Linked DNA regions of Homo sapiens. The protein of the gene in region 4 purifies or fractionates together with the protein of the main gene of each other region. This does not show direct contact. Each region holds a gene or a part of one and is shown on either strand. Other genes may lie near its edges. The genes, in order: NBEAL1, SAMD4B, SPICE1, RGMA and ANO3.

What was found.
Region 1: the proteins of RGMA (region 4) and NBEAL1 purify together in Homo sapiens (affinity purification with mass spectrometry; one large-scale study listed by BioGRID and IntAct). This does not show direct contact.
Region 2: the proteins of RGMA (region 4) and SAMD4B purify together in Homo sapiens (affinity purification with mass spectrometry; one large-scale study listed by BioGRID and IntAct). This does not show direct contact.
Region 3: the proteins of RGMA (region 4) and SPICE1 purify together in Homo sapiens (affinity purification with mass spectrometry; one large-scale study listed by BioGRID and IntAct). This does not show direct contact.
Region 5: the proteins of RGMA (region 4) and ANO3 purify together in Homo sapiens (affinity purification with mass spectrometry; one large-scale study listed by BioGRID and IntAct). This does not show direct contact.

What each region holds. Positions count from the first base shown.
Region 1 is NC_000002.12:203,218,948-203,224,314, reverse strand, and holds part of NBEAL1 (neurobeachin-like protein 1), read right to left. Parts: 3' UTR 1-5,367.
Region 2 is NC_000019.10:39,375,527-39,381,983, reverse strand, and holds part of SAMD4B (protein Smaug homolog 2), read right to left. Parts: intron 6,335-6,457; coding exon 6,095-6,334; intron 5,548-6,094; coding exon 5,438-5,547; intron 5,280-5,437; coding exon 5,193-5,279; intron 4,538-5,192; exon of another isoform or gene 4,500-4,537; coding exon 4,160-4,499; intron 3,481-4,159; coding exon 3,395-3,480; intron 2,019-3,394; coding exon 1,900-2,018; intron 1,398-1,899; coding exon 1,199-1,397; intron 995-1,198; coding exon 871-994; intron 360-870; coding exon of another isoform or gene 272-359; intron 1-271.
Region 3 is NC_000003.12:113,448,194-113,454,650, forward strand, and holds part of SPICE1 (spindle and centriole-associated protein 1), read right to left. Parts: intron 5,758-6,457; coding exon 5,273-5,757; intron 2,324-5,272; coding exon 2,143-2,323; intron 1-2,142.
Region 4 is NC_000015.10:93,053,082-93,059,538, reverse strand, and holds part of RGMA (repulsive guidance molecule A isoform 3 precursor), read left to right. Parts: intron 1-6,457.
Region 5 is NC_000011.10:26,329,740-26,336,738, reverse strand, and holds the start of ANO3 (anoctamin-3), read right to left. Parts: upstream 4,610-6,999; 5' UTR 4,464-4,609; coding exon 4,418-4,463; intron 1-4,417. UniProt on the Homo sapiens protein: Has calcium-dependent phospholipid scramblase activity; scrambles phosphatidylcholine and galactosylceramide.

The DNA.
Region 1 (5,367 bases), on a different chromosome or scaffold from region 4:
TGGAACCAACCAGCCACATAGTTTTCTAAGAAGTTTTCTTATATAAAGCTACTTATAAAATAAGCAGTTTGCCACAAAAAAAGTTTGGTGATGTTCATCAATCACAGTCTTTGAGAGCAGCAAAAAGCAGAATAGGAAAAAAACAGTTTAAAATATAAAAGATCTTTAATAGTAAGATCTACTATAACATGCCATAGTTTTGGAAGAAAAATAGAAATTATTATCATTAAATTGCTAAAAAGTCATCTAAGAAAATCAAAATTCCAAAATTCCAAAAGAATTATTCTTTCCAAAGGAAAAAATAAAGTTATCCTCTTTAATCCCTATATACAAAACAGACGCTGACAGTTTTTCAATTAAGTCTGACTACTGATATCCTACCAGAACCACTTCTTAAAGTGTTTAGTGATTAATATAACTTTCACATTCTGAAGAGTAAAACAATTATGTCGTATACAGACAAGTATCTTTTTCCTTCAAAATAAAGAGAAGCATTTATGAATTTGTAGGTTCATCCCACTAAATTGTAAAACATGTTGCTTAGTGTCAGAATATGTTACCAAAAGAAGACAACCCAAAATAGCATTTTAATGTTGACTAGTACACTGATTACCACAGAATTGCTAGTTTTAATACATCTTAAGTTGAAATATTACCAAAATAAAAATTTTAAAGGTCCAATTGGAATAGGACTTCTTTTAAAAAGTAGCTGAATTGATAAATTTTTAAAAATCCCACCTAAATCCTAATTTTTCTTCATCTTACATTACAATGCTACATTGTAACAGCATTACAAGCCGCTAATCACTCTGTACACTGAAAAATAATTATAAATTAATTTAAATAATGAGACAGCCATTACATAAGTGGAAACACAGACACACATATACCCCTCCACTAACAGTCAAGTTTGAAAAATGAATGGGTAATTTTTTAAATGACAAAATTGTGTTATTACTATTATTGTTATATTTGCAAAATATGTTTCCAAGGAAACATGAAAACCGTACCATGAAAAACAAATATTGAATTAGTAGCTTTCTATTTGTTCTTTTCCTTCTGAATTTTCAGTTCATAAGATTATGGGCATTAAGACAAAGGTAAATATTGTTGAATGTGCCCTTTTACTTATCACTAAAGCCACTGGCTTTACAGGTCCAAATCCTGCAATGTGTTTAGAAATCACTCACGTGTGACAAAGATCAATGAGATAATCACCAAACGAAGGAGATGTGTCTGATGAATTACTATAATCAAATAAGTATCTGATAATACAGCCACTATTAAATGAGATTTTTATACAGAAGAAAATCACGTAACTCCTATACTCTAGGATGGCCTTACATTTCTTAACACAGAAAACTGAATTATTTCCTATTTGGAATTAAACATCTTAAATGTTAATGCGTTCTTCTCTGTTATACCTATAAAAAATTAAAGATTATTTCCATACAGAGGCTGTACCTGCAAAAGTCATTGGAAGTAGTAGATAATTTACCCAATGCTTTTTAATTAGGAAAATTCTATTGATTACAAGCTTCAAGGCTCTAAGAGATCTACTTTTATGTTTTAAATTTAGCATGTTAGTCATGTTTTTTTCTTCTTTAAAATGTTGCCTAATTCAAGTTTGCAAAACGTTCACTGAAAGTCACCAGGAACTAATATTAGCAAACAGATGTACTTTTCTGGAGGCAAATATTAGTTATAATTTTCAAATGTGAACAGTCTAAAGAGAGTTCATGATAAAAATAACTCAATTGAAAGGAGATTTTGTTGTTTTTGTGGCAGGCAAAACAAAGATAATAAAGCCATTCCAAGCAAATTTTAGACAAAATGTCCCTCAGGATAATGATTAAGCCTATTTTCAAATAAGTCTGAATATTGGATCTGGTATATAAAGATAAATGGACAAATTTCTATGCAGAAAAATTTTTAGGATATAACATAATAATCCTCAGACATAATTTTTTAATACCAAGAATATCAAGCAAAGAGATTCATGAAGTCCAAAGCAGTGCCTACATATCTGTATATTTATAAACTCCACAGAGAAGTCTGATCTGTAATATCCATTAAGAACCACTGGCCTAGAAACTGCCAGATTTAAATTTAAAAAAATGTATTTTTGGAGACAGGGTCTAACTCTGCCACCTAGGCTGAAGTGCAGTGGTGCAATCACAGCTTACTGCAGCCTTGATCTCTAGGCTCAAGCAAACCCCTTGCCTCAGCCTCCCGAGCAGCTAGGACTACAGGCGCTTGCCAGCACACAAGGCTAATTTTTTAATGTCTTGTAGAGGTGGAGCCCACTATGCTGCCCAGGCTGGTCTTGAGCTCCTAGGCTCCAGTGATCCTCCTGCCTCAGCCTCCTAAAGTGCTGAGATTATAGGCATGAGCCACCATGCTTGGCCTAGATTTAAACTAAAGAAGGCAGGCTGTGGTCCACATTTTAAATCATATTAAAATGATGACTGATAACACTATATTGTTGCCTAAGGTCATCAAGAAAAATACCACATGACTCTGATAAATACAGGAAAACTCTATAGAACAATGCTCTGGATGGAGTCAAGTTTAAAACAAATAATATGTTGAGCATATACAATATACGAATTCAGCAAAAAGAATATTGAGAATGGATTTTGTTAAAGAGTGATGAAAATGTTTAAGATTGCTCACTTATTGGGGAGAAACAGTTTCAGCTGATGAGAGGAACAATGCGTAGGATAAGCCATGAGTATGGCTGATGATGCAAACAAACAAACAAAAAGGAAACAAACAAACATGTTTCATTTCTTATATCCCAGTCAAAAACTGTATCCTAAAGATAGGTTCAAGAACCTGTTTCCAGAAGACAGGTTTAAATATACATATTTGAAAAGACCAATCTTTACACACACATAACCCCAACAGACACCCATATTACATATATTATTTAATAATATAATATTTATATTTAATATAGTCCTAGGACTTGCATCTTTTCAGTGGAAAGGTGGTAAAGATAATGCTACTCATTTTATAAATATATAAAAGGAGCTAACTTCCTTAAGTTCAATTACAAGATTTCCTCAGTGGTCTCTTTAGTAGTAACAATATAAAATATACATAAAGGCAAAGGTCATATCTCTATCATCATTAAATAAAAATCTGGTATCCAAGTTAACAGTTTCCCCTGACCACTCCTTTTCACACAAAATATAAAATGTCTTAAGATTCAACCGTCAAATCTGAATTCTAATTCTGAGAGCCCACTTATTCTTTTCAGAAGCATAAACTTGATTTTCAATACAAGTACTCTGAAGGATAATTTTAATATGCCCTAAATAGAGAAAAAAAAGAAACCTCATTGGTGTTCCTTGCTAATGACAGAATGAACACTTGGTATTTTTTCTTCTACAAAAGGATGCACTGCACTGTGACCTAAACAAAGTTAACAGATTTTAATTTTGTTATTAACTTAATAACAGACGTGAGCTTCACAGGCTAAAAAGAAAGACTAAACCAACTTGCCAAACTTCATTTTTATATACTTTCCTGATTTTTATGCCCTGATCTATTTTTCTTTCTCTCTTACAATTTTATCTGAGTAATGCCAGAATACTGATTGCAAACAGTTGTAAAAAAATTTTATAAAGGTTCTTTATTCTCTAAGCGTGCACAGCTATTACATGTTTTAATACTTGATCTCATTTTCCAAAAGTAAAATAATTATCTTGGTATAAATCTCTTCCTATCACCAGGATGCTGAGATTTTTATTTTTGTCATCACCAGTATCAAGAAACAAAAGCATACAAAAAGTTTTGCAAAGATAACAGACTTTTTTTTTTTTTGAGATGGAGTCTTGCCCTGTTGCCCAGGCTGGAGTGCAGTGGTGCGATTTTGGCTCACTGCAACCTCTGCCTCCTGGGTTCAAGCGATTCTCCTGCCTCAGCCTCCTGAGTAGCTGGGACTACAGGCACCTGCCACCATGCCCAGCAAATTTTTGTATTTTTAGTAGAGACAGGGTTTCACCATGTTGGCCAGGCTGGTCTTGAACTCCTGACCTTGTGATCCGCCCACCTCGGCCTCCCAAAGAGCTGGGATTATAGGCGTGAGCCACCACAATTGGCCAGGTAACAGACTTTGTAAGAGCCAACTTGAGATACTATATTCACCAATTGAAATGTCCACCTGTTATTTCATTCCAATGATACTGTTCATTTCTCCCATTATATAATATATAACTAATTTCTATGGGTAACATCTAAATATACCAGAATTCTCAAAAGTACTTCTTTCCAATTATTTTATCTAGTGATTTTTAATTCAGTAGGCTATACTCTTTAAATGAGTAATATATTATTCACTAATAGTTGTTTGCTTCTTTTAACAGATAAAATTTAAGTTCCATTCTCTAGACTGTTGCTAGTATTCTCAAAGATTTTTCTCTAAATTCCATATTTTTTTTCTTTTCTTTGAGACAAAGTCTCACTCTGTTGCCCAAGCTGGAGTGCAGTAGCGTGATCTCAGGTCACTGCAACCTCCACCTCCCGGGTTTAAGTGATTCTCCTGCGCTGCTCAGCCTCTCAAGTAGCTGGGACTATAGGCATGTGCCACCATGCCCGGCTAATTTTTGTATTTTTAGTAGAGAAAGGGTTTCACTGTGTTGGCCAGGCTGGTCTTGAACTCCTGACCTTGTGATTCGCCTGCCTCAGCCTCCCAAAGTGCTGGGATTACAGGCATGAGCCACCACACCCGGCCCACATTTTTGGTTTTTACTTTTTGGAAAAAGCAATATAAGAAATAATTCCACTACCTTGTACATCTAGTATTAGTCCAGGTAGGATATCTATTTTATTGTGAACAAAACTTATTTGTACTATAAAGTAAAAACTGCTTATTTCTTCCATCTAAAAAGCAGCATAGTAAAACATCATAAACTTAGGCATTTTTTCTAATTATCTAAGTTTTAGAAAACTTATAAGCATCCAAAATAATTTTCAAATCCAGTATTAAGTAATCTTAAAAATGAAGGCATTTTTACATCAAAATCTCTGGATAAATAACAAAATAAAACTTAGTAGGTTTTGATTTAGAAAAAGTTTCTAAAAAAATCAGTATTTTAAAAACTAAAAATCAATCATGTTAGTTCTGCCGACTTGAAATCTCCTAAAAAACTGTAAGATAAAAAAAAAGATAGCCACGGTGGCACCACGGGTGAAGCACTGGATTGAAACCTCCCATCACCCCAAAAAAGAATAAAATAAATGAATAGATGCCAGTCTCATTTATGCATCATAATTATTGCTACTTAACTTGAGACTTTGTTCAATACAAATTCCTGAAGTCTTAAGAAAAGACACCTTGACATTTAAATATGTTCTATT
Region 2 (6,457 bases), on a different chromosome or scaffold from region 4:
TGCGGTTAGCAAGTCTCTAATCTTCCTTTTGCCCACTTGTCCCAACATCTTTTTGAGATGGGGTCTCACTGTCGCCCTGGCTGCAGTGCAGTGGCACAATCTCTGCTCACTACAGCCTTGACCTCCTGGGCTCAAGCGATCCTCCTGCCTCACCCTCCCGAGTAGCTGGGACTACGGGTGTGTGCCACCATGCCCAGATAATTTCTGTATTTTTTTGTACAGATGGGGTTTCGCCATGTTGTCCAGACTGGTCTCAAACCGATCTACTTGCCTCAGCTTCCCAAAAGTGCTGAAATTACAGGTGTGAGTTACTGTGCCCGCACTTGGCCCAACTTCTGCTCTCCCATCTCCAGGATGGTCTGTAAGCAGAGGTCAAAACAGCCCTCTCACTTCAAACACCTGTTCTAAGAGGTGAAGTCCACTGGTTCCTGTGTGGTCACCTGGCATCTGAAAGAATCCCAGTAGGCTGATGGGCAGGACTCCCCTCCACAGAAATCTCACACTTTAACTGTCCCATCCCCTCAACCCCTTCTAAGTTGAGTATTCAATGATCCTGTAAAGAAAGAGATGATGACAAAGAGCAACACAGACACTAAGATTATGACATAGGGTGGGAAACATGAGATGGGGTAGGAGTAAGGGGTGAGAGATGATGACTCAGAGGGGTGGGGGCAAGACCTGAGAGATAAAATTGAAGCAGAGGAGGAAAACAACCCCCCACAATTGGGGGAGATGGGTGCAGAGTGGTGTGAGGTATGGGGAGAGGTGCCAATGCAGTCTAGAAGAACAGTGGACATGAGACCCAGGAGAAAAAAGAAAGGTCAGCTGAGGATGTTGGCCAGGCAGAGTCCCAAGGGTGGGGCACCTCACCTGGAGGGAACATGAGAATGGCCTGGGGTGACGAGTGGACCGGGAGCGAGTGGGTGCGCTGCACAGAGCTGCGGCTCTGACTGGGCATGCTGTTGCTGCCTCCAGGGTTGGCAAACCACAGGTTCTACACAGGTCCCAGGAAGAGAGAAAGTAGTGAGTGCAGAAGAGGCCCAGACCCAAGAGTGGTGGAGGTGGTACAGGCCTTCTCCCACTCCCACCCCCGCCACCTCTAAGCTGGGTCCAGACACAGAGTATACAGGCAAATAGACATCCCAGGTACTGCCACCCCAACCCCAGGAGGCCAGGCCCCTGCTTCCAGCCAGCTTACCTGTCGGCCCTGGCCTCCAAGGCTGGGGCTGGTGAGGGCATGTCGAGGGGAGACACCCCCAATGCCCGAGGGGCTCAGGAGGCCCATCCGGCCGGGTGGGAGGGCCCGGGGAGGCATTGGGAACTGCCGCTGGGTACGCCGGGCCACTCCCATCCCCACAGAGCCAGCTATGGGGAGCGAGTTGGAGCCGAATGCCCAGCTATGAGAGAGCAGAAGGCAGGGTGTTAATTTACATAGATGGGGCCTATCTGTCCACCCCTTCCTCACCTTCCCCAACAACCCCAAGTTGTAGGAGAGAACATAAACCTCCATCACACATTCTGTCCTCATCTGCCCCAAGGGTACCCCCTGGAAGGAGATGGGACATGTACAAGGGTTTCTTCACTGTCCACTCAAAACAGTTCTCCAATCTTCAATTCTCAAAGGAGACATTTCTGTTATTTGTCTGGTCTAAGGAGGGACTTCCAGGCCCTCTGCATACAGGCGAGGAGCAAGGTACATATGAGGGGCCTGCTCATGGGACATGTGTTGTTTTTCAGCTCAGCATCCTATTCTAGTGGAAATTTTCTTCTGGGAAAGTCGCCCAGTGACTGAATAAAACTAGATTCTCAGCCCAGAACACAATCACCCCTCTAAGCACGATCTGCTAACCAGCAAAGGCCTATGGAGGGCAGGTCCCTGTAACCTGGCCACCCGCCTACCCTTTCTGCTGCCGGTAGTTCTGCATCTCTAGTGCGGCTTTGCGCGGGAATGTCCGGAGGAGCTTCAGCACTTGCTGTTTCCAGGATAGCAGCCGTTTCTTCTGCGTCTCCGTGAAAGCCTAGAATTGGCAGGACACCGGTGAAGCAGAGAGGGTGATGCTTCCTTCAGACCTCCCTTCCAGTCTTCCATTCATTTGTTCAAATATTTATTGCCTGGCCGGGCGTGGTGGCTCAAGCTGTAATCCCAGCACTTTGGGAGGCTGAGGCGGGTGGATCACTTGAGGTCAGGAGTTGGAGACCAGCCTGGACAACATGGTGAAACCCCACCTCTACTAAAAGTACAAAAATTATCCAGGCATGGTAGTGTGTGTCTGTAATCCCAGATACTTGGGAGGCTGAGGCAGGAGAATCACTTGAACCTGGGAGGCGGAGGTTGCAGTGAGCCGAGACTGCGCCATTGCACTCCAGCCTGGGCAACAGAGCGAGACTCTGTTTCCAAAAAAAAGATTCATTGCTCATCTACTCTGTGCCTGTGCCAGGCAATTCTGGGATGCAGAGGTGACCATGCCCAGAGAGCTTACAGTCTGGTTGTGAGGGAAAGATACATACATGATGATAACTGTGACAAATTATCCCTCCCTGAGGGAGAAGAACAGGAAGCAAAAGAAACTTAAATAAAAATGAGGGGTTGGTAAAGGTGTCCCTGAGGTATAAATGTTTGAACTGACAGCTGAGGGGTGAGGAGGAGGAAAGGGTACTGTTGCTGACAAAAGAGTATGTACGGGCTGGGCATGGTTGCTCATGCCTATAATCCCAGTACTTTGGGAGGCCAGGGCAGGGGATCGCTTGAGGCCAGGAGTTCGAGATCAGCCTAGGCAATAAAGCAATACTCCATCTCTAAAAAAGAAAATCGTCACGCCTGTAATCTCAGCACTTTGGGAGGCTGAGGTGGAAGGATCACTTGAGGTCAGTTCAAAACCAGCCAGGGCAACAGTGTGAGACCTCGTCTCTATTAAAAAAAAAAAAAAGAGAGAGAGAGAGGAAGAGTGTGTACAAGGGTTCTGAGAAGAAGCCTCTAAAGCCAACACTGGTAAGATACAAGACTGGAAGGGCTGGCATGTGCCACGTCAGGTAAGGCCCTATGGGCCACATACAACACAATGGTCTTGAGAAAGATGGGGCAGGCTTTCCCTCACTCTGTCGTCCAGGCTGGAGTGCAGTGGCGCGATCTTGGCTCACCACAAGCTCCACCTGCCGGGTTCACGCCATTCTGCCTCAGCCTCCCGCGTAGCTGGGACTGCAGGCACCTGCCACCACGCCCGGCTAATTTTTTGTATTTTTAGTAAAGACTGGGTTTCACTGTGTTAGCCAGGATGGTCTCGATCTCCTGACCTCATGATCCGCCCGCCTCGGTGGCCGAAGTGCTGGGACTACAGGCGTGAACCACCACGCCTGGCCGCCTTTCCCTTTTTGAGTATGCTAGGGAAGGCCTTACCTCATGAGTCAGGCACTTTTCGATGAGCTGGAGGTAACTGGTGATGTTCTCCTCGTCTGGTCGGGACACCAGCAGTTGGGTGCACACTGGGGGGACATGAGAAAGGGCAGGAGGTTAACCCCTAGTATGCCCTCTGCCATGTTCCAGCCTCCAGCTGGCTCGTGCACAAGAAGGAACAGGAGACTCAGGCTGGATGAATATCAACTATTAAGTGCTAGCCATGGTATTTGGGTTATCATGAGGATATACAACATAGTGCCTGACACAATCTTGTCACTACACACATTTTTAGCCTTAGAAACCTAAAGCTCAGAGTTGAGTCACTTGCCTCAGGTCCAGATCCAGATCTAGACTGATCTGGATCCAAGTGTAAAGTCTGCTGTATCATGCTGCTTTAGGAAAGGCTGAAGCTGTGATAAATTTCACCATCCCCATCCCCTGGACTTTGGTCCCCTCTGAGAGAAATCAATGGACTCCCCTCAACTGCTCACCCTTTACTACATGGAATTTCTTCTGACCCACTGCCCCATTTCTGCTCAGCCTGGAGACGCTTTGAGGGGAAGGGCTGTTATCCACCATCAGCCCAGACGTGCCCAAGGGCAAGGGGCCTTGTCACCCTGTCTTGGCTACTCTCTGTAGTGTTCCAGTCTCCAGTAGGCTTTACAAAGCCCTGCTCCCACCATCGAACTTGGATTTGATCCCTGGTGCTTGGGTTCACTTGGCTTTCTGCCTCAGGATTTCCTGCTAGGCTGTGGCTGGTCTCACCTTTGCCCATCACCCGTGTAAACTGGCTGGGGATGTCTCCGTCGGCGACGGGAGCCGGGGCAGGCTCACTGCCATCAGTGGGAGCTGGAGCTGGTGGAGGTGGGTAGTTCTCCACAGCTGGAGGGTCCTTGGCCTCGGTGCCTTTGTCTGTGCCGGGGTGGGCTAGGGGAGGCTCAGCACCTGGCAGCGGTGGTTCCCCCGGGGCCCCATCCTTGGCAGTAGGGGTGGTGGTGGCGGCAGCCACGGTGGCCTGGAGGACACTGTAGGCCTTGATGGGAGTGATGATGATCTGCTGCAGCTCCTGCAGAGCGTTTCGTAGGTTCCCGCCTTCCAGCACATCCTGGATGGGAGGACACAGGCTGGGGTCACATGCAGACCCTACAATGAGGGACAGAGAGTATCTACACAGAGAGTCAGACAGGGCTTGCAGAAGGCTGGGTAGGACCCTGGGTTCCAGCACATAGAGAAGGCATGTAAGGGTACTGCAAGCCCACAAACATATAGGTACACATTTCCTCTTTCCCATTAAGATGAAGTCCCACAGAACTCACGAAAAGCCAGTCTAATGTTGGAGTCTCAAGGACCCAACAAGGATAGAATCAGAGATTCAGACCTAGACACTGAGCAGGGAAAAATACAAACAGAAGGCAGTGGCAAGGAAACGGAATCAGATGTGGAAGGAAAATGAGTTTAGAAACAATCAAATGGAAAGAGAGATTGTACAGACAGAGACACTCTGCTCTACCAGAAAGACCAGTAAGAAATGGAAAAGCAAAAGGGGAGAGAAGGTGTAGAGTCAAAAGACAGAGATCCTGGAACCACAAACCAGGAAAGACAGGGAGGGGAGACTCTTAGCCACCAGCAAGTGAGCCTTTTGATGCCGGCTTGCATGTGGTCCCTGAAGTCTGGGTCCCTAGGGCTGGGAATTTTGGAGGCCACATCCGAGGAGTCTGGAGGCCAACTCAGGGCCTTTGGTCTACTGGTACCACCAAGTGGCTGGCTGGCCTTGAAGATGCAGAAACCAGGTCCTCACCTTCTCTAGGGACTTGAGGACGCTCTGTCTCTCACGCAGCTTCTGGATGCTCAGGGCTATCTTGTGGCGGGCACCTTTGGTGACGTTCTGTGATAAGGGCAGAAGGGGACAGGAAGCTAGAGATGTGAGGCTGAGATATTTGGGGGTACCCAAATAGAGATCAAGGAGACAGAGGAGGCTTGGGCTGCAAGGATGCCAAACTAGCGCTGCCCCCAGCACCTCCCTGATGGTCCCCTTGGCTTCACCTGAGACTCCAGGTGCTGCTCAGTCAGTGTCATCATCTCCTCGTAGCTCATCTGTGAGAAGAGGGCTGCATACTTGTGCAAACGGAGGCTCTTGAGCCATGAGGGCACATCTTTGGCAAAGGAGGGAGAGTGAAAGGTCAGGAGTTTGGCCCAGATTACCAGGGTAAAGGAAAAGTTGTGGGGATAAACCCACAGGAAGCCTCAAAAGATGCAAAAAATTGGGAGGGGGTTGGGGGGAGCTAAGGTTCCATCAGCTCCTTCTTCATCTGCCTAGCCAGACCCTCAGGCAGCCTTCCCTGGGAAGGACATCTGACCCTTCTAAGCTGCTAGGCTGGATGTATACCAGGATGACCTCACTGATTGCTCCAAAACTCTTGCTGGAACCTCTGTTCCATCACTTAGCTGTGTCCTGGCTTCCTTGTCAGACTGGGGTGTGTGAAGACAGGGGGCTCCTTCCCAGTCAGACTAGAACTTGTTAGGGTAGATGTGGGGTCTCTCTGCTTAGTCCTGAGCCCTAAAAGCAGGGACTATCTACTCCCCTCAGACATGTCCCCTCCTCAGAGGGGTAAGCAGGTGTCAGCTACAAGCTCCTTTCTGTCCTCTAAGCTCTGCAGAAGCCCCTGGAAAAGGGTCCTGGTGCTGCTGTCCCCAATGTACCTTTCATGCCACTGCCATCCTCCTGGAAGGTGTTCCGGCTGGAGCCCTGCTCCTCTGTCTGCTCACTGCCAGAGGAGGCCACGCTGCTCTGGGGCGAGAGAGGTGCGTGATCGGGCGTGGTAAAAGCAGCCCGGGCCCCAAGCTCCTCTGGACTCGGCCACTCACCAGGGACCTGGGGGCTTGTAGGGATGAGTGACATGGAGCGCTTCAGTGGGCTAGGGTGGATTTGGCAGGGGAGACCTGGCCAGAGTGGGAGAAAAGCAAAATATTAGACCTGGGGACCCAACCACAGGAGACCATCCCCCTGCCGTCAGTGCCAGGATGGCAGTTTGGCCCCATAACCTGCCAAGAGGAAGGGACCTG
Region 3 (6,457 bases), on a different chromosome or scaffold from region 4:
TCACTCAATTTCTATCTTACTGCAAACTGCACATTAAAAATTTGGTGGTTCTTTCCATCTGTTTTAATCTTAGCCCAAGATACACTTGAAAGACTTTTTTTTTTTTTTACTGAACTGTGGGATAAGAAACTTTAGTTACTAGTGTTAATTCAGTAGCATGCCAGTTCATAGAGAGCCAAAATCTTCAGACAAGTGGCATCATGTCAGCTCTGGAGGTGAAAAACAGGAATTAAGAGCTAGCCCTAAAGAGCTTGAGATCTTTGTCCAAAAGAGCTTACCTAAAGTTTTCCCAAAAAAAAAGGAAAAAGAAAATTTCTGAAGTCATTCAGTAAAACTTTAAATCTTTTAAATCGATTACATTATGACTATTACTGAAGACATTAAAGTAGGAGAGGAAAGTTGGCTGAAGAGCTCCATATGGCCAATAGCAAGTATAATTATGAATATTTTCCATATTTCAGAAGTAGGTAATCAATCAGCATATTTACTAAGTATTTACTAATGAAAGACTTAATGTTCATCACAGGCAGTTTCACAGAGGCTCCTGACTTTGTGTGACTTCCTGGCTTTACAAGGTAATAAAACCCTATTTAATTTTACAAAATATTCCTCAGTTACCCTAGAAAACAAAAGAGGTTTTTCATGATATATGGTTTATTTTTATTTTTATCATTATAGTCCACAGCAGCTTTTTTTTAAACAAATATAAGAATTTTACTTATAAAAAGAATACTTTAGAGATAAATCACTGGACAGGAAAGAACGCAGTTGCAAATCCACAACTTGCTTTGTAACTTGATAAATCACATAACCTCTTTGTACCTCAGTTTACTTATTCATCAAATAGGTATAATATTAGCCCTGTCTCCTCTTAAAGTATGTTGAGGACTAAATTACATAACATAAATAAAAGCATATTTTAACCATACACAAATACTGAAATGGAAGATGTATATTTAAACACAAAATTATTCTTAAGGCTGATCTGCTTTATTTTTCTTCCTTGCACTTAGCACTAACTGATATTATCCCAAATATTGATTTGTTTGTTGCCTGCTCCCCTACTCAAATGCTAGAGTATTCAAGCCCACACATGGCAGGCACATAGTACATGTTCGCACATAGTACATGTTCGCACATAGTACATGTTCGCACATAGTACATGTTCATATATAGTTAATTGATTTATTTATTCTAATCAGAAGTTGTCTCTAGGCTTCATAACTATGAAGAACAGTAGACAAAACTGTCATTTGAGGAAGCCTAGAATAAACAGAGAGCCCTGGGGAAATGCATTACCATCTTTTTCCAGCAATTTCCAAAAGAGTCTGCTTTCTGGGTCTGTATTTCAAAAAGGAAATAATTTCTGAGGGGAAAAGTCTTATTGGAAGGTATCTTAAAGGTAACCTACTTCAACCAGAAATAAGACATATGAGTCCCCTTCAAACACCAATGTTTGAACATCTCAGAGAACACATCAATTACTGGTACATGGAGCTTTTTCTATTCCTGACAATTAGAGCCTTCTCTTTTACTGGGCCAAAATCAATCTCTCAGTACTCTTCATGTAGCTGTCCCTTGAGGGCCTTAATAATGCAATTTCTGATAAAAAGCAACTTGATACATACTTCGTTTCATCAGTATCTTTTTGAATGTGAATACTATGACAATTTTTTCAGTTACTATTTTATTATTCAGAATCCCCTCTAGCTTTTCACATTCCTAAATGTAACAAAAAATTTAATTGAGTGAAAATGTTTTAAGTGTTTTACAGAATAATAACTTGTAATTCATTGCTGATGAAATTCTAAATGAACATTCAGATATTTCATGCTTAGTTGCAGCATATGACCTAAGTGAACCGTACACTATAATGAATCCCATTTAGATGTACGATAATTTAGGAACTCAGACACCAAAGATTAACTATAGGCATCATAGGATAGAAATAATCAGGAGATCTGCCTTCTAATCCCATTTCTGTCACTTATCCTGTGAGTTAGGGCTATTTCTTTCTGTGCAAAATTGAAGGCACCAAAATATATGCTCTGATACTTCTTTTGGCTTAATATAAACTTGCAAAATCAAGAAAACTGAAAACCTTCATATTTCTAGTTTTTAAATCATGAATTTGTGACCAACCAGTCCATGCTCTGAGAGGTAACTGAACAGGTGACATTGGTGGAGAAAGATTCAAACCAACAAGTTTCTGCTGCTCTATCAACTGCAGTAGTTTTCCACGAGCCTCCATACTTTGTCGATTCAATTCTGCAATCCGTTCCTCCATACTACCTGGTGTTAGAGACTGTGCTACTGGAAAAGTCTTTGGGAGAAAAAAAAAAAAAGTACAAATTGAATACTGAATACTGAAAAATCTCTCCCACGATTTTTTTTTTTTTTTTAGGCAGAGTCTCACTCTGTTGCCCAGGCTGGAGTGCAGTGGCGCTATCTCGGCTCACTGCAACATCTGCCTCCCGGGTTCACGCCATTCTCCTGCCTCAGTCTCCCGAGTAGCTGGGACTACAGGCACCTGCCACCACGCCCAGCTAATTTTTTGTATTTTTAGCAGAGACGGGGTTTCACCGTGTTAGCCAGGATGGTCTCCATCTCCTGACCTCGTGATCCACCCACCTCGATCTCACACAATTTTGACTTACTAATGGCCAGCAAGTTAGTATTCATAGCCCTTATTATATATAAATGTGAATAGTGAGCACACAATAGAATTTACAGTCCCTTTAAGCATATATTCTGGGAAAAGCTTTTCTGTATCTCTTAGTATCTGCAGAGCTGCACAAAAGATCACATGAGCAAAGAGACTGCTCCAAGTGAGCTGGTCTCTAAGTAAATGCCACACATCTTTGAAGACAGATCTGCAGTTTGACAGATTACAAAAGAGGATCTGCTATCTTGGAAACAGAAGTTTCTATAATTACAGGCTTCAAATATGCACCATTTGGCAAAGATTCTGGGAATCTTGTCACTCCTTCTAACCATATGTCAGCCTCCCCAAGCCACTTTTGGCCTAAGGTATCTGATTCAAGAATAGTTGGTGATTGGAAAGAAATATGAGAGGTAGGGTAAAAAATAGCCGCCCAAAAAATATAGCATAAATTTAATTTGAAAATTCCCCCCCCAAATGTGCTTATGTCATTCCTAATTATTTCATTATTCCTAATTATGTCATTATTTCAGTCCTAGTTATTTCATTTCTCTTTGGAAAAAAATAATCCCTAATAAAAATCACTGATTTTTAGCTTATGTCTATTAGTAATAAATAAATAAATAAATAGGAAAATCAGTATGAATTAAAGATCATTTTGTATTTCCAATTAAAACAAAAGAGGGTAGTGAAGACAGAAATATTAGATAGTCCCTTCCAGCTTGATCTACATACTAATTAGAAAAGGAGGCAAGCAAAACATTAGACTCTGCTGTCTTTTTTAAACCAAGAGTTGCCTGTTATGAATAATCTTCAAAACTACAAATATATAAATGCCTCCCAGTGACTCAAAATTGAGGCAGTTGATATTTACTTATATACACCACTACCAATGGCTGGCTGCTCCCTACTAGCAATATTCCTTTCTGGCTCCTCTTCTGCCAGTTCCTTCTGTCTACTTCTATGATTCAATACCCATATTGTCCTTATTCCCCATGACCCAGTGCTGACAGAGATGGCCCTTACCCTATGACTCACCTCACCCTAACCTTCCTCACCAAAGCCCTCCAACCCACTGTTGTTAAAGCCCTTATGAACACAGCCACCTCACGAGCTTCTAATCCCCAGTGACAGTGCCCAGCTCCTCCTATCAGAAACTTGACAGGAGCGGCCTTGGCTCTAGAAGGGGTAAAAGAAAGTGTCTACCATCACTGGAACCAGCATTTGGAGCTCTTTTATAAACCCTCCCTAGCTGGAATTTAGACTCCCTATCTCCCCCAGAAACAACGAAATGAAGGTTTAAGTTACCAGGTTAGCCCACAAAGTTTATTTAACTTACAAAACTCCTGCACTATAAAATGCAGACCTTTGCTACTCAAAGCGTGGTCCTCAGACTAGCAGCACTGGCATCACTTGGGAACTTATTAGAAATGCACAGGTCCTACCCTAGACCTACTCAATCAGAAACCACATTTCAGCAAGATCCCCAGATGATTAATATGTATATTAAAGTCTGGCTTTAATAATCCTTTAAAACATTATTTCTGGCCAGATGCAGTGGCTCATGCCTGTAATTCCAGCACTTTGGGAGGCCGAGGCAAACAGATCACTTGTGGTCAGGAGTTCGAGACCAGCCTGGCCAACATGGCGAAACCCCGCCTCTACAAAAAATACAAAAATTCACCAGGTGTGGTAGTACGCACCTGTAATCCCAGCTACTTGGGAGGCTGAGGCAGCAGAATCGCTTGAACCCAGGAGGTGGCGGTTGCAGGGAGCCAAGATTGCGTCACTGCGCTCCAGCCTGAGCAACAGAGTGAGACTCCATCTCAAAAAAACAAAACAGGCTGGGCGCAGTGGCTCATGCCTGTAATTCCAGCACTTTGGGAGGCTGAGGCGGGCAGATCACGAGGTCAGGAATTCAAGACTAGCCTGACCAACATGGTGAAACCCCGTCTCTACTAAAAATACAAAAATTAGCCAGGTGTGGTGGTGCATGCCTGTAATCCCAGCTACTTAGGAGGCTGAGGCAGGAGAATCACTTGAACCCGGGAGGCAGAGGTTGCAGTGAGCCGAGATCATGCCACTGCACTCCAGCTTGGGCAACAGAGCAAGACTCCGTCTCAAAAAAAACAAAACAAACAAACAACACACAAAACAAAACAAAAAAACCACCTCATTTCTATAGGAAAATCCATTCTATGTCCTCAAAAATTAACTACTCATGAGTTGAGGGCCAATACTCTTTTATGAGCCATTTTAAAAATAAAAATATTTTCAATTAACATGTGGCTGTGTGGCAAACATTCAAGTAACATTAATTCTATATTTTATACCTAAAACTTCATTCCTAACTTAATCTTAGCTTTCCTACGCATTTTATCTTTGTCCTATTTTCATTTATATAATTTCCCTTTTATGCTGTCTTGTATTGTATGTACAACAGACTGATAAATAACTTGGACCTATTGTATTGAGGACATGCCAAACATAAGCCATCTAGCCTCAAAGCTTTCTAGGATCACTTCTGAAAAGAAGTTTCTTAAGTTGCCCAAGCTAAAGTTCCTATTTAAATTCCTATATGTCCCTAATCAATCCTTAAATGGTACTCACAGAAGTCATGTCACTTGCACTTTCTTGTTTGTTCAACTCCCGGAGTCCATCCCCTTGCTCTCCTCTGGGCTCAATAATATTATTCATATGTGCCTTGATAGCTGAATTCTGCAATGTCAAATCAGCAATTCGTGTCATTATGTCCTTTCTTTGTATTAATGACTCATTTGTTCTCAGCTGCTGCCCATCTCCCAGTACTGGGAGCTCTTCTGAGAATGTGGGGCTTCTTGACTGTTGAGTGTTGGAATGGGAATTGCAGAGGGGCTGTGAGAGGTTAACAAAAGGAGCCTGAGTTTTGTTCTCCAAATCTTCTCCCATGTGAGAGACTCTCCATCTCTGAGTGAAGAGACGATTCTCTTCACTTGAATTCTGAATGTCTGTATCAATAGGTAAGGTCTTCTCTTCCCAATTTTGTTCCTTCTCAATTATTTCCACAGTTGGAGGAAGTCGTGGAGCAGGACGAGTTTGAACAGTCCTTCTCAATACTATAGATAAGAATTTAAAAATAACAAATATGTATTATTTTCCCATAGATTGGCACTATACTCATTTCATTAGCCCACCATGGTAGTTAGAAAAGTATTTCAGTAGAAGGGTTTGGCTTCTGAATGCTTAAACTATTTTCAGCAGAGAACACACCAGCAATGCCGCCCCTCGTAATCAAGTACAGAGACTTTTTACATTCCTTAAAGCATTTGTTAGTACCCTTGTGAAAAACCATCTGTCAAGTTCACATTTTAACGCATATATTAACTCACATCTGGGAATCTTGGGGAATGAGGAAGTGGGTATAAGTACCCAATTTAAACAGCAGATAACCAGGAAAGGCCTCTCTGAGGAAGTAAAATTTTTAAATGATTACATATGTAATAGGAACTGAGCAAAGGACATTACAGGCAGAAAATGACTGCCTTTAGGGGTATGTACTGTGAAAGCTGTCAGAATCAAAATGGAGTCATTTGGCCGGGCGCGGTGGCTCACTCCTATAATACCCGCACTTTGCAAGGCCAAGGTCGGCAGATCACCTCAGGTCAGGAGTTCGAGATCAGCCTGGCCAACATAGTGAAACTCAGTCTATACTAATAATACATATTTTAAAAACTAGCCAGCCATGATGGTGCACGGCTGTAATCCCAGCTACTCAGGAGGCTGAGGCAGGAGAATAGCTTGAACCCAGGAGGCAGA
Region 4 (6,457 bases):
AGCAGTCACCCTTTATTCTGGTCCCAGCTGGTCACTGTCAGTGGCCTTTTCCAAGTCATTCCCTTGAGCTTTGGAAGAGAGGAAGCCTCGTAAACTCTTAGGAAGATCTGCAGAGCTGGATCCAAGTTCCCTGAGAGTTTGGGACACCTGGGAAACCCAAGAAGTCGGGATGGGTCAGTTGGCAGCAGCCGCTGCTCCTGGTGGGCTCCGCACAGACCTTTGTGGAGGGAGGGCCCGGAATCGATTAAGCTTCTGGTTACTGCCCTGAGACCAGATGGGTCTGCGGCTGCATAGGAGACCCGCATCATGCTTTTGGGCCTTGGGGGAGCTGGGTCAGTCTCAGCTGGTGTCCTGAGGAGGGACTTGTGGCAAAAGCATCTTGAAAAGCATAGAAACAGCTCCAGGCCTGCCCATCTCAGCCCCAGCCCTTCCACTTGTGTGACCCAGGCCCGCTCGAGCCCGAAGCCTCCGTGTTTGCATCTGCAAAATGACGATCAAAATTCTTGCCCTCTAATCGGCAGTAGCGAGGATCCAACAGGAAAGCAATGTGTCACCTGCACAGGCCCCGGGAGCGCAGGCTATTTTATTGTCACGATCATGTTTTGTTTTCTGGGGTGAGGCCCAGCCCACGTACCTACCCAACCTCCCTATGCAGTCCTGGGTGCACAGCCTCTTCCCCAGTGAGGCCCCCAAGACAAGAACTCTTGTCTTCGTTCGTCTTTGTGGCCCCGCAGCACCTTCGTGTTGCCCGGTATGGAGCGTGTGGAAATCCGAGAGGTGTGAAGGAAGAGGAGAATGCAGCTTGGGGGCTGAGGGCTGTGGTTTGCACCTTGCCCCCTTCAGGGTACCTGAGGGTGGGGTGGGTGGGGAGCTATTTAATGCCTCTAGGCCTCAGTTTCCCTGTCTGTTGAATGAGGATAACAAGTCAGTCCTGGGTCTATATTAAGGGCTAAAGGAGACACATGTACAATGTCTAGCCCACAGTAAATGCTCGATAACACATTAGCTGTTAGTTAAGCTCAGCCTCTCCCATAAATTGTGATTAAACAAAACAAAGTTAACACAAAACTGGCTGTCACAGAGCTTCCTTCCCGAGTCTCCCGGCTTTGCTCACATCAGTGCCTGCAGTCCCTTTAACACCCCTCTGGTGAGGTGCCCGTGCATGCCTGTAGCTCAGAAAGGTCAGTGAATTTGCCCACAGTCACACAGCTCTGGAGTGGCGGAGCTGGAGTTGATCTCGATGCTCTGCCCCACCACAGTAAGGTCCACCGCTGCGGTGAGACCCTCCCACTGGGCACTGCCCCATAAGAACATCTCACCTGTTGCCTGTCGACCCTGAATTCTCTCCAGTTCTCTCTGGGTGGGGAAATTGCAAGTATCCTTATTTTTCTTTCTCATATAGGATCTAAGGTCTCTTCATTTACTCATTAACAAGGGAAGGACAGAGGCAAACTTGTTGAAATTGTGCTTCAGGACCCAGAGTTTCTCACCGCATCTTCTCCCAGAAAATGTCTCAGCAGAAGAGGCATTTTAGGATGCCGTGAAAACTTGGGGAAGGAAGGGGTTGTGACAGGCAGGAAACCGAGTGCTCTCTGTCAGGAACAAGGACATAGAGACTGGACCACACAGGCTGTGGGGTACAGAGGTCTCCCAGCAGAGATACGAGAGCTCGATGTGCCACCCCCCAATCTCTCCCTCTGAAGAGCCAAGGGGATCATCCCAGGCCTGGGCAATCCCTGGGCGAAAACACGTCCTTGTCGGGAAATGGGAAAATGGGGTAGGTGAAGTTAAGTCAATCTGGTCCTTTGGTCTCTGGCCAGACAAATGTCTCCAGTGATACTGGCAGCTTCTGCAGAGGTGACTTGGGAGGGTGCAGGAAGGAGAGGAGGGAGGCGGCCAGTTTTCCCTCTATGACTGTCTCTTTAGCTTGGCCACCATAAGAAAATACCCCAGCCTAGGAGGCTTAAGCAACAGACGTTTATTTTCTCAGCGTTCTGGAGGTGGGAAGTCCTAGATCCGGTACCAGCATGGCCCAGTTCTAGAGAGAGGGCCCTCCTCCCGGCTCTCAGACTGTGGACTTCTCATTATATCCTCACGTGGCAGAAGGAGGGAGAGGGGGCAGGGAGAGAGAGAGAACGCTTAGCATTCTCCAAATGTCTTTATTTTAAGGGCACCAACCCTGTCGTGGGGGCTCCACTCTCATGACCTCATCTGAACCTAATTACCTCCCAAATGTCATCCCATAAGGGATTAGAACTTCAACCATCACATTTAGGGGGACAAAGTTCAGTCTATAGCGCTCTCCCTGGGCGTGAGTGAGGTAGTGGGGTGAAGCCACCTGGTGCCCATGGGAAGCGAGGCCCCCTCGACAGTCATGACCATTGACTGATCCTGGACAGTCAGTGGATTGAAGGAGCTGCCAGGAGTTGGGGGACCTGGATCCAGGTGGAATCCACTGCGCCCTGAGAGTGAGTGCCAGCAGGGCCTACCCCGGGGAAGGAGGGAAGAGGAGAGATGCCACATCTGCTGGAGCTTCACCAGGGAGGGGCAGGCTCCCTCCAATGCCCCTCCTGTCCCCCAAGTCTGTGACTTCTAACCTCTGACCTCCCGGGGCTGCAAGCATTGTACCCCACTGTGGCCTTTGTGGGGGACCCTGTTTGTTGGATGCCCCTGGGGCTCCAGGCACGCCATGTACATCTCCTCATATCCTCAGCGACCCTTTAAGGTGGACACAGTCTCTACTTGACAGTTAAGGAAACAGGCTGAGTCAAGTTCCCGAAACTACTGGTAGGGGACAGAGTGGGACTTTGAACCAGACACCTCCCTTCAGGGCCTGTGCTGGCCCTCAGCCCACCCAGAGCTGGGGCTGGCAGAACTTGGAGGGAATAGTGGGGCACGGAGCTCACCTCACCACCAGGGTCCTGAAGCCTACAGAGGAGTCGGGGAGACGGGGACCCTGGTTCCTGTGTGCAACGGTTCCAGAGTGTGACCTCTGCCACCATCTTTGAGTGGCAGGCAGACAGCTACGCCTGCTGGGTGAGGGGTGGTCTTGTTCTTAGAGTGGGTGGGGTCTGGGAGGAGGAGAGGAGCAGGAGAAGGTGCCCATGTGGAACGGAGAAGTGAAAGGGCCTCGTCTCAGGCGCTTCTTAGCCGCTCTGCATCAGGGCTAAGGTGGCCGCATCCCTGCTGTTTGCTCCTGGGGGCGCTGTCTGCCTCTTGCCACTCCTTTGCCTGCAGCCCCCTTCTCTGAAACTTCGCCACCAGCCCCCTCCCCATCCTGGGGAAATGTCGCCTTCACACACTCCGGGCTGGCCCGGCTCCATCAGGCACTAGCTTGGCTTCTGTGACCGTTGAAAAGAAAGTGAACCAACTCTGAAGCCTCACTACTCAAAGTGGGCCGGGGACCAGCAGCATGGGCCTCTCCTGGGAACTTGGTAGAATTGCAGAACCCCTGGGCTACTGGGGCCTGCCGAGCTGGGTCCCAGGCCACCCAGTACAGCCTCATCTGGGGCTACCAGATCCCACTCTGTGGCCCTGGAGCATGCGAGGGACCCCTCTCCGGGGTACCTGGGTGGGATTTCTGTCATGAACTGCCCACATACCCCAGAGTTCTGTAGCTGCGGTGCTGCTCTGAGAACAGTTTTGAAGGCTGTGGAGGTAGCAGATCCCGATCACGAAGCCAGTCCACTTAAAATTCAGGAGGCTGCGGAGTTACCCATTTGGAGGGTAGAGCCACACCTGGGCACCAGTCTGACCCTGCCGTCGAGCCCCTGCTCACCCTGGGAGGTGACCCCTTGGAACTTGTCTGCTGGAGGCAAGGCAGGGAGAAAGCGTGTGTGGATCACAGGCCTCCTGCTCCTGGGAGCACAGTGTCATAAGATGGGTCTTGCAGGAGAGGCTGGAGCCCACCCGTGGGGGAGGGAATCGGGTGTGCTAATGAGGTTGTGTGATGATGTGTGGCTGCCGGGGGCGTGAGCTCTCAAGTCCAGCGGGCTGGATTCATGTCCTGCCCTGGCTCCTTCCTGGAAGTGAGACTTGGGCAAGAAGTCAGCCCAGCAGAGCCCGGCTTTCCCCTGAGAGCTGGGGATGGCAGTCGCACCGGGAAGATGCAATGAGGGGAGGCCTGTACCGCCTGCAGCACCGGACCTGGGACGGAGCCAGCCAGCTGGGACTTCACGGTCCCTGCTCTCCTAGGTTCTACCAGATTTGGTCGTGGTGGAGAGTCAGAGCCCAGCACAGCTCCTGCTTGTGTTGCAGTGGGACCTGCTGTAAAGGGACAGGCAGTGTTCTTTCCTCTACTTTGGTCACAGTAAGTGCCACAGGTGAACCGGAGCTTGAGCGTGGCCATCCATTAACAGGAGACCAGTGTTCCTTCCGGTTGATTTTCTCTGACACCCACATCTGCATGATTCTGAGGAGGCAGAATGGCAGGTCAGCACACCGGGCCCCTGGAATTAGTGAGGCTGCCGGGACAGGCATTGTGTGTAGGCCACCGCGCCAGTCAGTTCCTGTGTGCTGGGTCCCTCCAAACGCTTGTTCTGCGTAGCACTCCCTCCCCATACACGCCCCCACCACACTCACCTCCTGTACCGGCTTTATCAGGGGGCGGCAGGGAAGCTACCACACCAACATTTCAAAGCCTACAGGTAGGTTGGGCCCTTGCACATCTTGTACAGGTTAAGGAGACGTGAAGACAGCAGGGCAAGAGAATCTTCTCGTTGCCTTGGGAGGGAGACCTCTCCTCAGGAGCACACCTGTGTAGGAGGAAGACTACATGGGGGCATCTCACCAGTGCCCCCCACGTATCTACCACAGCATCCCTTTACGGTGGTGTATTAGTCTGTTTTCACACTGCTGATAAAGACATACCCAAGACTGGGTAATTTATAAAGGAAAGAGGTTTAATGGACTCATAGTTCCACATGGCCGGGGAGGCCTCACAATCATGACAGAAGGCAAAGGAGAAGCAAAGGCACATCTTACGTGGCAGCAGGCAAGAGAGCATGTGCAGGGGAACTCCCATTTATAAAACCATCAGATCTCATGAGACTTATTCACTACCACCAGAACAGTATGGGGGAAATGACCTCCTGATTCACTTATCTCCACCTGGCCCCACCCTTGACACGTGGAGATTATTACAGTTCAAGGTGAGATTTGGGTGGGGACACAGCCGAACCATATCAAGCGGGCACCACCTGACTGTCATTTACCTAACCTGACCCTTTAAGTGAGTATACTTCTTCAATTTAAAGCTAATAAAATGGAAAATCTGTAGCTCTTCCATCAATTTTTTTTTTTTTTTTTTTGAGATGGAGTCTTGCTCTGTCTCCCAGACTGGAGTACAGTGGCGCCATCTCAGGTCACTGCAACCTCTGCCTCCCGGGTTCAAGCAGTTCTCGTGCCACAGCCTCCCGAGTAGCTGGGATTACAGGTGCGCACCACCATGCCCAGCTAATTTTTGTATTTTTGGTAGAGAAGGGGTTTCATCATGTTGGCCAGGCTGGTCTCGAGCTCCAGACCTCACATGATCTGCCTGCCTCGGCCTCCCAAAAAGTGCTGGGATTACAGGCGTGAGCTGCCATACCCAGCAATTTTTTTTTCTTAATGCACATTTAAATAAAGATATGACTTCTCAAATTAAAAGACAAAGTGTTCACTTAGGTATCACCTGAAATTACCTTGTTACTGGCAGTATGGCAAACGGGTCACGTGAAGGGGGGAGCCCAAATTTCAGATGAGCACTGACTCGCCCGTGCTCAAGTCTGTGATCTGGGAAGGTGACTTGTGCTCCAGTAGGATGGTGCCCACCCACCTGCAGAGGCGGGAGAGATCACCCAGGTCCAGGGCTGCACAATGCAGGCTGGGTTCACACAAGGCTGCTGGGATAGGTAGGCACTCGTGCTCGCGTTAGCCTGCCCTCAAATGTGTCTGTTCTTGGTTTTATGTGCAACTCAATTTTATAGGTAAAACCAGCACCAGAGACACAAACTGACCTTTCCAAGGTCACAAGCCAAGTTAGTGGCCCAGACAAGAGTGCTGAGGCTCCCTTTCCCCGCTGGAGACCACCCAGGCCAGGACTGGGCTGTGACCCCAGAGGCTGGACCTCCCAGCTGGTGTCCTGGCCCCTTTCTCCTGGAACCCATGTAGGAACTTCTGTCCTGCTGCAGGTCTGTGTGCCTGGCCAGTTGTGGTCACTATGGGCTGTGCAGAGGAAGGCCAGAAAAGGGCAGGTTCTGTGTGTTGAGAAGATAAGGTGTGTTAAAGCCATAGTTCTGGGGCACGGTCATTTTGGCTAATTGTCACTAAAGTCTCAAAGCTTGTGAGGGATCCAAGGTTACTACTCTCAGTTGCTTCTCAGCTTGCTTCTCTGAGCAGGACAGAGGATGGGGCTATGGTCAGCATAAGGGAAGCCAGTTCCTCTATGGCCAGGGCTAACAGAGCACTCATACCAGGC
Region 5 (6,999 bases), on a different chromosome or scaffold from region 4:
TTCTCTAAGATAAGGGTATAGGGAGGTTCTAGATTGTAAGGATGTCAGTTAGGGGAAAAGGAGATGAAAACAGTGGATATCAGAGATTCTGAAACTAGATATTTTTCCCAGGATTGTCCTTCTAGGTAATTTGAATTCAGAACTTGACACAAAGCAGGATAGTTGTGCCAAGTGGCTTTACGGGTGTGCACTTGCAATAGCAACAAATTTATTTAAAGAAAAAGAGAAAGAAAATACTTTAGACTGTAAGTCTCCATATAAGTGTAAAACATTCTTATTATTAAATGAGTTATGTGAGTAGTAAATGCTTATTTCTATGGAATTACTAAAAACACTCTCTGTTTTAACCAAATGTCCTTTAGGATAATGATGAATCACTTAACAGCCTTAGCTGATCCCATTAAGCCAAAGTCTTTTGGGACAGGCTGTGTTTGATTTGATCTATGGTTCTATGAAAAGTCTTGGTAGCTGTATTGGTAAAGAGCAGCCACCAGAAGCCAAAACTATCATTGTCTTTCTCTTGCCCACCCTTGTATGACACATGAGCTCATCATAAATCAAGCAAAACATGGAAAGCCAGGCTAGGAAGAAAGTTGGACTTTCCCCAGAAATCACTGCTGATGTGTCAGCTAATGTGTTTTTACAAGATGTGCTAAGACAAAAGCAAACATATGCTCCCAGTTGTCTATAACCATAATACACTCCAATTTACCCTTGGGACATCAAAAATAAGCAGACTGCCTCCCCCTCCCCACCACTGCACAGATGTCTCACTTTTTACTTCCTATTAAGCCTCCTAATAAGATAATCTAAAATTTACAGTGGAGTAAAATTCAAAACTATTTGTGTATATCTTCTTCATAAACACAACTGGCACTGCCAAAAAACAAAACGTCAACATTTTCCTACAGAAGTGCAGAGTTGTCTGCAATTCTCGTAAAGGTGTTTAGCAAATCTCTCAAACTTCCTATAGTAGCAAGTCCTTTAAGGAGGAGGGTTTTGCAGCAACAGATTCAGCAACAAAAGAGGACTGAATAATGCTATTATTAAGCACAGTCCCTGGCATACACGCAGCAAAAGCATGGTACTTAAGAGTGGACAGTAAATAAATACCATTTCTTGCAAAAACATTTTAGATTATAAAGTTAATTACAAACCTAAAAATTTCTATGGGAATTTTTTGGAAGTTTTCCTGAGGGATGGACATATGAATTGAGGAGAGTTTGTGATAGTTAACTCCAGACTATTTTAAAAAACCATCCATAGATGGTCTGGAGTCCACTGTTTTCCTTAAGATGAATCCCAAAGTAATAAAGCTGCGTGATGCAAAAGAAAAAAAAAGGCAAGAAATTATAAGGGAACTGCTAAGAGTCCAATATACTACTAAAGAGCCAACCAAAGGTGAATGAGCCTAGATGAATTTTAGTAAGGAAAATCACTAAATTTTTTGAGCCCCAACTGTGTGTCAGACAAACTGCTAAACACCTTATAACTCTGCAAGATAGACATAATTATCTTCATTTCACATAAGCAGTTACTGTGGCTTAGTGATATTAAATGACATAACCTGTAAGTAGAATATATTGGATTAATATCCAGGGCTCAAAATAAAGACCAGAGATTAAATTAATAAATTAGGGCTTACATACAGTATTTCATTTCCCAGATAACCAGTCTGGCATCTATACTTATCTATACTATACTTATACTTACCTATCAAAACCAATTTTGATCGGGGATTGGTTAATACATAGTTCTCATATATAAAGGAGAATCCCTATGCCTTGTGTAGAGTTTAAATATTGAGTGTGTCTGTTTTTCAATTAAGGGTGGAAACTTTAAAAATAATATAACAAGGGTGATTTCTAGTTATATCAGGCTATTTCTAGATATTTTCAAGTTGAAATCAAAATTTTTAAAAGAGACATTGAGCTCACTTGAATAAAACAAAAGTAAATTCCATCAACTGGATTTTTCAGCTAAATTAATTCGTAAAAGTAAACTAAAAGCAAGGCTCTCCTCTTTATCTGGTCACAGAAGAAATCATCTCTGCCTTCATATGCAAACCGTCCCTCCCATTAAACAGAGGAAGAGAGACAGAAAAGGCCAAAGGGATTAGGAATGTATTCTGTTCATGTTATGTATGAAGCAAAGTCCAAAGAAATTAACCACTTTGTTGAAGATTTCTCAGCTAGTAACAAACGCAAGCTTAGAACCTAGGAGTACAGAGTTCCACTACAGAATTTTCTCCATTTTAATGTGCAATTTTCAGGTTAATTTTATGGTGAAAAGCACATCTGAATGTTTTGTTGTTGTTGTTGCATACCTCCTAGGACAGATCACATCTAGAGAATTATTTTGCTTCTTCCTATTTGAAGAATAAAAATAGCTAATCCTCAATTTGGTCTGTTTTTTTCCTAATGCCCATGCAGGATTAAGAAGCCATTAACCAGAACCACTTAGCTAAAATGAATCTTGCTTCCTTCCTACCGGAGTACTCCTCCTCTAGATTTGTATCCTTTTGCTGAAGTTGCCTTTTGTGCCAAAGAGTAAAGGAAGACTTGAAATTAAATGGCTCATAATGCATCATAAAGGAAACAATGTGAAATGCCAGCAATTGCACAATTTCTTATCACTCTCTTTGAGCAATGACGGTCGGACCTACAGTTGTCAATTATTTCCTTCTTAAAAACACAACATGTATCCATACATAATACATTGTTGTGGGGGCCATTTGAAGCTTCCAGATCCCAGAAATGAGTCACCCATAGCCAATGCATCAGTGGAGGTATTTATTCTGTGAGGCTGTTGCAAAGTTCCTATCATCTTTGTCTTCATTCTGAAAGTTTATGTATGTTTAAAACCATGATTAAAGAGAACACAACTTCTTGAAGCAGTTTAACTTTATTTGAAATGTTTAGAGTTGAAGTAGAAGTGCATACTAGGTGAAATTTTTGTCTACCCCTACAGTCTCACACATCACTCCCAATTTCAACATATATTTGAAACATCCTAGAGAACTTGGGCTTGAACTGAGTACAGAATTATGGAACTGGAAACTCAGTCAGTCCCATATTCTGTCTTACGCAGGAATCCCTTCGAAATTGTTTCTTGTGTGTTAATCTAGTTTTTGTTAAAAACAAACAAAAAAGTCAAGGGCCGGGTACAGTGGCTCACACCTGTAATCCCAGCACTTTGGGAGGCTAAGGCGGGCGGATCACGAGGTCAGGAGATGGAGGCCATCCTGGCTAATACGGTGAAACCCCGTCTCTACTAAAAACACAAAAAAATTAGCTGGGCTTGGTGGCGGGCGCCTGTAGTCCCAGCTACTCAGGAGGCTGAGGCAGGATAATGGCATGAACCTGGGATGCAGAGCTTGCAGTGAGCCGAGATCGCGCCACTGCACTCCAGCCTGGGCAACAGAGCGAGACTCCACCTCAAAAAAAAAAAAAAAGTCAAAGAGCTACATAAAAACAACTGTTGATGAAAGAAATACAAATAATATCTGGAGGGTGGGGATGAGAATATTTAAGTAAATATTTACTTTGAATGAACAAATTCAGCATTCCAGAATTCACACATCTAAGGCACTCTATGGTTAACTGTATCATAATTACCATTATTAATTCAGCAAAGTGGCAATTGTGTTAATTAATGCTTCTGGATAATAAAACTCCAAAAACTGTGAATGTGCCTCAAAATAAAAATGCTCTGTAAAAAGCCTTTTAAACCAAATAAGAAACAAAGATCAAAGAGTGAGGATAACTTGAACATACAGATTCTTGTCACTATGCCCAGCAAGAAACTTGAGGGAGAAACTAAAAGACATAATACGAAGCCCCTAGAAGAGAAACCTAACCTCAAGAACTTGAAACCCAGAATCAAGCATGGGACATGGGCAAACAATAAATTTTCCCAAGGAAGTGACAGAGCCCCTTTAACTGCAACAGGCCAACTCTGGAACTCCCCCAAGAATTCATTTATCTTATGATTGTGTAAATGCGTCTCAAGGAGTAGACACACTTTTGTGAAGATTACTCAACATTTGAACCACAGAAGACGGCAGATATTGTTGAACATTTCTGTCCTCACCCCTCAGAGCTCTACTGAGCTATTCGGACAATCCCTACTAAGCGGGTTTACTGCAGTGCATTGAAACAGTCTTCACAGAGATATACATTAAGTCAAGTCCTGAAATGACGAATTCCGATACTCCCAGGCACTGTGCGGAGGCTCAGAAAATCACTCATCTAGGATGCAGAGTGAAGAGGAATTTAATTTTTTTTTTTTTTTTAACTTCACAGAGTTCCCCACCTCTGTGTCGCATAAGCCTGCAAAGGATGCTCCTACACAACTGCAAGGGCATGCAGGGGGGAAGTGACGCCCGCAGGGAGAGGGGAGCAAGATTCCAACTGACCTTTTTGCTGTTTAAAGGACTGAATGGAGCCTGAATGGTGGACCATTTTCACTCTGCGCGTCCCAGCCGGCTTAGGGAGCTGCCCGAGAGGGAGGCGGAGGAACAGTAGCCAGACTCTAGACGCTCCAAGGTCCGGAGCCTCAGCGAGCGCACTGCAATCCGACACCTGCTGTAGCCGGCACTTCGCTCTCCAGGCTACGCGCCCGCCGGTGTCGTTGTCATGGGAACGCGGGAGGGCGGTCTAGCGTCCGGCTCCCCTTAGCGGCTACTCTGGGAACAACCCCGCATCCCCCGCGCGTCCAGTGCCACAGTGAGGGGTGGGCGTTGAGCGGGGTTGGCTGGGAGTGGGAGCAGAAGACTTTACTGGAGGAGGAGATATAAATCGGAGCAAACCTCTAGAGCTGATACTGATGCCCTCTTTGCCAAGCTTTGAGGCTGGTTATTTATTTCCTAAAAGTTGGTAGGTAAACCCTGGGACTTTTAAGGAAGGGCAAAGTTGGTCTGTGCTCTGAGAGGGTATGCAGTGGCAGATGCAGAGACGTTTCTGTTTTTCTTTCTTAAATTTAAGTAGAGGGGGCAGAAAGCCACCCCAGCTTAGTTAGCCAGTAGCATGTTTTATTAGGTAAGCTGTGTTCTATGTCTAGCACTTTTCACTTGAGTTTTCCTCTTCTTCTTCTGCCATTCAGGCCTTGAATCATTTATGATGATGATGACTGAGGACCATTTATAACCTACTTAGTCACAGGGGCTGAAAAAACACTACCCACGATGCTCGATTTAATCTTCATAAAAGCCCTGTAATGTAGGTAAACTATGATTCTAATATTATAAAAAGAAACTTAAGATCAGAGCAACAAAGATTTCTCAAGACCACATAAATCAACACCTTATTTGAAAGAGAAGGCACCCGATACCCAAAGAAGTGAAGTAACTCTTTTTGTTTAGTTTGAGAAGTTTTATTTTATTATTTATTTATATCTTCACCATGTATTTTAAGTTCGTGGTACATGTGCAGGATGCGCAGGTTTGTTACATAGGTAAACGTATGCCATGGTGGTTTGCTGCACAGATCACCCCATCACCCGGGTATTGAGCCCAGCAGCCATTAGCTATTGTTCCTAATGCTCTCCCTCCCCCTCCAACAGGCCCCAGTGTGTGTTGTTCCCCCATTGTGTCCGTGTGTTCTCATCATTCAGCTCCCACTTTGAAGTAACTTTTGAAAGACCAAACTGCAGTGGCCAAAATAGGACCAGAAGCTAGCTGAACACATTTTTCAGTAGGATCTCCTTTCCTCCATCTATCTCTGCTCCCTGATTCAAAGCCCTAAGTTCTTCCTGGAAGATGTAAGATGTTATTGAACAGACACATCGTGAGAGTCCGTTGCTTCCTCAGTTTTGAAGTTTTATGGAATCAACTCAGAATCAGGTGAATAATCCAAATAAAAGCAGATAAAAAATATGCAGAAATTTCCAAACTTTCGATACCTCAAAAATATTGAGTTATTATTGTATGCTGTTTGATTCATCTGTGGTGCATGATACAAAAGAATGAGGGGAATATAGCTTTGAACAAACAGATGCTCCAATTATTTATGGATGCATAACAAACTACCCTGAAACTAAGCTGTAAACTAAAATTTATTATTATTACTTATGGATTTTGCAGGTGGGCTAGATTCAGACAGGCAGTTATCTCTCAGAGTCTCTCTTGATTGTTCAGTAACTGGTCTTAAAGTCATCTGAAGCAAAAAGCGAAATTGGATTCTACTCTCAGTGGGAGGAAGAGCAAACAATGTGCTACCTTCTTTAATGTATCATAATGGTCTTTCCAGAAAGAAATGCTGAGCATTCAATAAGAGCTCAGTATGCAGGCATTGAAGAAATACTTGGTTACAGACAATGAACTCAGTGTGAGTTCACCTCCAAATGAAGATCTAAAACACAGTTCAGAGACTGTCTCCGTAAGGGCTTTTAATACAGATATTGTATAGATGAGGGCATTGAAACCGAGAAGAATAAATGACTTGCTCGAGGATGTTTTTTTTAAATTTTGTTCATCCAGAGTTAAAATTCTGATAGAACTCAGCTTACAGATCATTCTGATGTGAACCAACTCATTGATTCTAATGCAACCCAATTCTCCTACGTGAGGATTAGACAATGAATTTAAGAATGGCAGAAAACTAACACCCAATACTTACTAGTCAGTTATGACCCCTGTAGATCTCATTTAAATGTTTAAAACCCCCTTTTAAATCACCGGTTTTAGAATCAGAAATATTTTTGAAATTTAAACTTTAATTCAATCCCTGGTCAGCAGGACTAGTTAAAAGAATTAAAGTCCCCTCGCCGGGCGGTGGCGGGCGCCTGTAGTCCCAGCTACTCAGGAGGCTGAGGCAGGAGAATGGCTTGAACCCGGGAGGCGGAGCTTGCGGTGAGCCTAGATCGCACCACCGCACTCCAGCCTGGGAAACAGAGCGAGACTCCGTCTCAAAAAAAAAAAAAAAAAATTTAAGTCCCTCTATTCCACATTTCTAGGCACAGGTATCACCTTTACCTTCCTAAGATCTTTTTCTGTTGATC